Linked DNA regions of Homo sapiens. The protein of the gene in region 1 interacts with the protein of each later gene in a biochemical or structural test. Each region holds a gene or a part of one and is shown in the gene's direction. Other genes may lie near its edges.

Region 1 (3,500 bases):
AGTTTTGGAGACTGCTGCGTGAGCCAGTACCAGAGATCTTGGCTGGTCATAGCAGAATATGGCAGCTCTATACCTTGTTGCCTTTCAGTCCGGGTGACCAGAATACCAGCCCACCTCTCTTCCAGTTCTTCTGGGAGAGAGAATCTGATTGGCTGAGTTTAGGTCTCTACTTCTGTTCTAATCATCCATAGCCGGGGGCTTAGAGTCAAAGCACACAAACCTGATCAGCAGATTATCCTGATGGATTGAAGGAAAGGAAGTGGGGAAGTTCTCTGAAAAGGGAAAATGTGGCCTGTGTGCTCAAAGATGGTTACAATAATGTGTTATATATTAGAAGCTTTCAAGGTGCCAGAGAAGAAATTACTCAATTTACCAGTTGCTTATTTATGGCATCTGTGTTGTTAGGAGCTGAAGGAGTGATTAGTTTGTGAATGAACAGATTTTGAATTAACTAGTTGTGAATTAATGTGGGACAAGATCATAAGATTTGATGGCCTGAACTTCTGTCACTGCTGCCTTGCTTCCTCCTCCAAAAATGGTCTGGAGGGCAGGGCTTGGTAGCTCACACCTGTAATTCCAGCGCTTTGAGAGGCAAGAGGATCGCTTGAAGCCAGGATTTCTGGGTTACAGCTAGCTCTGATCTTGACACTGCACTCCAGCCTGAGCGACAGAGGGAGACCCTGTCTCAAACTAGTCTGTAGAAGAGCTAAGCACAGGGATGGAGGAGAGCAGGAGTTGAGTTTCTGGAATCACTTACCTCTTCTTTAACCAGAGCAGCTTTTTCTTTACCCTTCCAGTTGCATATTTCCAATATTGTGGTCTGCTGGTGGCAGTCATTCACAAAAAGGTCCCTGCTACACTTTAACCTGGTTAATCTACTTTCCCTACTTCTCATCACTCAATGGGGAGGAGGGGGATCTATTGTAGTGACTTTTTTTTTTTTTTTAAGGATCTCCCTTCTGTATTCTTCATCCCCTTCTTTTCATGCATTGAGAATTTATTCTGTGTGTGTCTCAGAATGAGAGAGAATGTGCCTGTGAGAATCTGGTTGTGCATTTGGCCTGAGAGAGCCAGCGATGATAACTTTATCAATAGATACTGGGTAAACCAGAACATTTACCAAACTGGGTAAATTTGTTGTGTCATAATTCGAAGATCAGATTTGGGTCTTTCATGCTAAGAAGCCTAAGTAATTCTGTAACAGAAGGTCTTCTGTCTAGAAGGCTTAAGTGTTTGGTTTCCTTACACCTACCAGGAGTCACCATCCTGATAACTTCAAGTGCTGTTAGGATGCAGCAGGAGAATGGGAAGTTAATGGGGGATTTGAGGTTAGAGGTCCTCATCACGCTCCTCTCCCCATTTATTGGGCAGGGATACAGACTAATAGCTATGATAGATATAACAGAATCTTCCATATGATTCAAAGCTATTATGGGATGCAACTAAAATTTCCAAGGCTTCACCTGAGCTCATGTCTATGAAAGCACGTTCGAAACAAAATATATTTAACTTAAAGTGAAATAGGCTGGGCGCAGTGGCTCAAGGCTGTAATCTCAGCATTTTGGGAGCCTGGGGCGGGTGGATCACCTGATGTCACATTTTTTATTCTCTCATTTCCATTTCTCATATTTTTTAAATGAAAGCAATATTTGTGCAGACAGTACTGAAAAAATTCAAAATAGTGAAAGTCTTCCCTTTTCCATTAAATCCCACTCCCATTATGCTTTTAACCATTTTTGTTTGTTTGTTTTTAGGGTTTTATTGTTGTTCCAAAAGTCTAAAAATATACCATGCCTTTCTCTCTATATTTTTTCAACTCAAAAAAAATATTTCTTAACTTTTTGCTAGATAAGAAATTTAGGTCATTTTCCACCTGTCCTAGACTTTGATTTCTATCAGTTACATTTTGGTTCCTAATTTTGCTGTTATTTTTAACTTTTTATTATAAATTTCTGTTTATTGACCTATCACTTTTAGACAGTATATTTGGCCCTTCATGTCTGTGAATGACTTATCTTTGGTTTCAACCAACCTTGGATCAAAAATATTCAGGAAAAAAGGTTGGTTACATCTGTACTGAACATGTACAGACTTTTTTCCTTGTCAGTATTTCCTAAACAGTATAGTATAACAACCATTTCATAGCATTTGCCATATATTAGGTATTGTAAACTAGAAATGATGTAAAGTACGTAGGAGGATGTGTATAGCTTATATGCAAATACTATGCCATTTCATGTAAGAGACTTGAGCATTCTTGGATTTTGGTATCTGCAGGGGACCCTGGTACCAGCCCCCTACGGATACTGAGAGACAACTATATTTCCTCACTTCCTGGTCTTTCAGAAAAAGATATAACACCGATCCCTTTCCTTTTGGGATTTAAAAGCCAAACCTTGCCTTTGTTTTTCCCTCCTCCCTTCCTAGCCTTTGTTTTCTTTTTTCCTTTTTTTTTTGAGACAGGATTTTGCTCTTGTTGCCCAGGCTGGAGAGCAATGGCGCCATCTTGGCTCACTGCAACCTCCGCCTCCTGGGTTCAAGCGATTCTCCTGCCTCAGCCTCGCGATTAGCTGGGATTACAGGCACCTGCAACCATGCCTGGCTAATTTTTGTATTTGTAATAGAGACAGGGTTTCACCATGTTGGTCAGGCTGGTCTTGAACTCCTGACCTCCGGTGATCCACTCCCCCTCCCTTGGCCTCCCAAAGTGGTGGGATTACAGGCATGAGCCGCTGAGCCCGGCCCCAGCCTTTGTTTTTGGTTAGTACTGTTACATTGGCAAGATTTATTGCATTTATATAATGTTTTATAACTCTTCTAAAGTTTTCTGTGCTTCTGCAGGAAAATCTAGAAATTGAGTACTAATAGCCACTCTTTTAAATATGTATGTTGACATGAGTATTAGTTACTATAGAACCAAGTACTGTGGAGCCATAGAGAAACTTCACTTCTGTTAAACCTGTGATCCTTAAAAAGGAAATATAACAAAGTCAGCCGGGCACAGTGGCTCACGTCTGTAAGCCCAGCACTTTGAGAGGCCCAGGCAGGCGGATCGCCTCAGGTCAGGAGTTAGAGACCAGCCTGGCTAACATGGTGAAACCCCGTCTCTACTAAAAATGCAAAAATTAGCCCGACGTGGTGGTGGGCACCTGTAATCCCAGCTACTCGGGAGGCTGAGGCAGGAGAATTGCTTGAACCCGGGAGGTGGAGGTTGCAGTGAGCCAAGATCATGTCATTGCACTCCAGGCTGGGTGACAAAGCAAGGCTTCGTCTCAGGAAAAAAAAAAAAAAAAGAAATATAACAAAGTCCTGGTTGAATGAGGAAAGCTCATTGAAGTTATTTTTAAAATTTAATATTATAATGGGTTCTCATGTTGTAGCCATTCAGCTTGTCTTGGTAGACTTTCCGGAGTCTTGGCCTGCCTTTTCTAATTTGGGAAGCTTAGTAGACCTGTTACCCAGCTGTCATCCTGGGATTACTTCACATTGTTCTCCTGGGT
Region 2 (3,500 bases), on another chromosome or scaffold:
CACCTGTAATCCCAGCTATTCTGGAGGTGAGGCATGAGAATCGCTTGAACCCGGGAGGTGGAGGTTACAGTGAGCCGAGATTGCACCACTGCATTCCAGCCTGGGCGACAAAGCAAGACTCTGTCTCAAAAAATAAAATAGAATAAAAAATGAACTGACATATGGTTCCTCTTTAGTTAAGAATTATGTAGATCACCTTCTTGCCTTCCCACTCCCACCCTAGGAAACGGAGTCAAATGTAATGCTTAATGATTATAACTACATTAGCCAGCAAGGTTAAACATAAGTACTTCCTCCTTTTAATGACACCTCACACTCATTTTATTTATCTTATTTATTTATTTATTTATTTATTTATTTATTTATTTATTTTTGAGATGGAGTCTCACTCTGTTGCCCAGGCTGGAGTACAGTCATGCCATCTTGGCTCACTGCAGCCTCCACCTCCTGGCTTCAAGCCATTCTCCTGCTTCAGCCTACGAGTAGCTGGGACTATAGGCATGTGCCACCATGCCTGGCTAATTTTTGTATTTTTAGTAGAGACAGGGTCTCATTATGTTGGCCAGGCTGGTCTTGAACTCCTGACCTTAGGTGATCCACCTGCCTCAGCCTCCCAAAGTGCTGGGATTACAGGAGTTTGAGCCACAACGCCTGGCCTCCCACCCATTTTAACAACTTTGCTTTATGTACCTTTTATTGCAGGCTACTCAGAGCATTTTGGAAAGCAGTGTAATCAATATATTTTTAACTGCTTAATAGACTAAGCAGTTAGTTTACAGCTAGAGTTGTGCATGAATCAGACTTATGTTCCTAGTCTTCACTGGCCCAGATAATATCTTCTCTCATGCTTGCAGCTTTCAAAATACTTTTGTTTAAAAATGAGCTTTTCTGAAAGTTACCAAATAAGTTGTAAGCTGGATATTTAAAGTTTAACATTCTCTATAAAATCTGTAGAGAAGATTTATTCTAATAGATTTTTGTCAAAAACGGAAACCTTAGAAAAAATTTTTCTCTGAGGCACTAATTTATAAATATTAAATTTTTTTTCTAAAATCTTATCCTTGAAAGCTGAACCATGACATAAATATGAAAATATTCATTCATTTTAATATGACATTTTAGGGAAACTTTAGTTCCACAGTATTTCCAAAAGTAATTTCCAGTTTAGCTCTTAAGACTCTTCAGTGAACTGGCAGCCTTTTAATAAGAATGTACTGTATTAGAAAGTACAGGCTTTAATTTTCTAAGTCCTTTAACATGAGTAAAGGGCACGTGTCTTTCTGACATCTATTTGTGCCGTTTTCCACTTGTCATTTTAAAGAATTGGGACCTTCAGATGTCACAACTAAATGCAAGTTTCTAAGGCTTTTCCTTCTAAATTGCTCATTCTTCCCTCTTTTCCTGTTACACTGCAAGCACTTACTCTCTCCTTTTTGTGTGATGTTCAAACCCAAAGGCATAAAATGCCACGATGTGTTGTCAGTTTCCCTTAGTAAGTGGAGATTCCAAATTGTCTGTTTCTGTGTCTAGCAGATTCTTGTCAACATTGATTGGGATTCCCATTTACAGTTGGCAAGGGTCATCAGTAAGTCTTCCAGGAGACTCTTCATACTCAATTCGTGGGAACTGACTTACTGTATCTAGCCAAAACTAACTTCTTAAGCCAAAAGCAGTTTGGTTTTATGGGTTTAAAAAACTTTAGGTAGGAAACATGAAATACATTTCTCTTACTAAGTTTTCCTTGATTAGTTGTTCATTCTCTGTGCACTTGTTCCTTTTGGGATAGTAGGGTAAATGTAGCATGATGTTGCCAAGAAAACAAATGGACTTTTAATTCAGAACAAGCATAGCACTTCTCAGTTAAATGTATTTGGGAAATCCAGTTTAAAAATTCCAAAGAGCTTTAGATTAACTTTTTTATCATAATTATTCATAGAGATTATTTCTGTTAGATATTTTAATATGCTGAATTATTTTCTCATGCTTTTTTCTTAGAGAGTATAATGCACAGTTGAACTTCTAAATAGTATAGTATAACAATTTTATTTTTATAATTTTACTACCTCATGTACATTTTTATTTACAAAGTTTGTGTTTGGTTCTATTTCATATTTTATAAACAAGTTCTCAGGGACAAACATGCAGGGTTTTTCTATTTATGCAATTTCTGTGCATAGCTCTCACTTTGAAATTAGATATGTAGTTAAAATGCCACACTTTACATTTTCTTTTGTGAACCAGACTTTCAAAAAATAATTTGTGTTTTAAATTATTCCGTTAGCTAAAGTTACAATCACTTTTTTTCTTTTCGTGACGTTTTGCAGTTTTTATATAATGCAGTCATATTATGCTTCTTTGATTTTAATGACCTTTTGCTTTGCTTTTCCTTCTTTTGTGCTGCAAACATATAGTGGATTTATGGTCTGTGGGGTGCATTATGGGAGAAATGGTTTGCCACAAAATCCTCTTTCCAGGAAGGGACTGTATCCTTGTGCTGCTGCAGCAGTTAATTAGTTAGGCGATGAACTTCTTTATGTTCTCTAATGAAAATGAATATGCTACATTTACACAGATGGGTTTTTAAACAGGCATAAAGTTTGTGGCTATTATAGTTCAAAAATTGTTGAGATAAGAAGCTGAAATATTTGTAGGCTGCATCTGGCAGTAGGACATACAGTCTCTGCTGGTAGTCAGAGCACATTCACTGTCACTCATTTTTATTTTATACTGCTTTTTATAATTTTAAAGTATACATGGTGTGTGTGATTTTATTTCTTTCTTTTTTTTTTTATTTTAACCAAAATCTTTATGTTAATGTCATTGCATTTTGTTTTCAGTTGACATTTGGTCAGTTGGGTGCATCATGGGAGAAATGATCAAAGGTGGTGTTTTGTTCCCAGGTACAGATCGTATCCTTATCTTTGGCCTAAAATGTAGTTTCTAAAGGTCAAAATGTATGATAGCACTTCAGTTTGGTCAGGTATAATGTATTTTGTCTCTCCCTAATATATTGTTAAATTACTCTTAAAATACCACCTACTATTTGACATAGACTTTTCCTTCCGTTATTTATTGTTTCATATGTTAATTCTGAACCCTGCTCAATTGTAATTATGCACAATTACTTGCTGGCTTTGAGTTGATTTAACCTAAATCAAAAATCATGGCTTGCATTAAAAATTTATAATAATTATACACTTAAGTCTAGAAATACGTACAACTTAATATGAATTTTGGAGCTGTCTGTTGCTTCTGGCCATCCTTTTGTTTTGTCCCCTACCTCCTTTTTGTTAATGTTCTGTGTGGTTTGTGTCTTTTGATTGTTGTCTCATTACTCACATAACATACTGACCCTTTCATCTGAGAATTTCAGCAGTAGTAGTTTTGTATGGTAACGATAGCTTTGGATTCATACTTTTTGTTCATCCCACTACTTTTAATATTTATATTAACAGTGATTTGTTATGTGTTTACCAGCTAGTAACACTTAGAATTGTTTC

Evidence for each region. Proteins that work in one complex are often made in the same cells at the same time.
Region 2: the proteins of PIAS2 (region 1) and MAPK8 form a complex in vitro, tested with the Homo sapiens proteins (one study listed by BioGRID).

The regions. Positions count from the first base shown.
Region 1 is NC_000018.10:46,911,008-46,914,507, reverse strand, and holds part of PIAS2 (E3 SUMO-protein ligase PIAS2), read left to right. Parts: intron 1-3,500. UniProt on the Homo sapiens protein: Functions as an E3-type small ubiquitin-like modifier (SUMO) ligase, stabilizing the interaction between UBE2I and the substrate, and as a SUMO-tethering factor.
Region 2 is NC_000010.11:48,421,677-48,425,176, forward strand, and holds part of MAPK8 (mitogen-activated protein kinase 8), read left to right. Parts: intron 1-2,411; coding exon 2,412-2,483; intron 2,484-2,837; coding exon of another isoform or gene 2,838-2,909; intron 2,910-3,500. UniProt on the Homo sapiens protein: Serine/threonine-protein kinase involved in various processes such as cell proliferation, differentiation, migration, transformation and programmed cell death.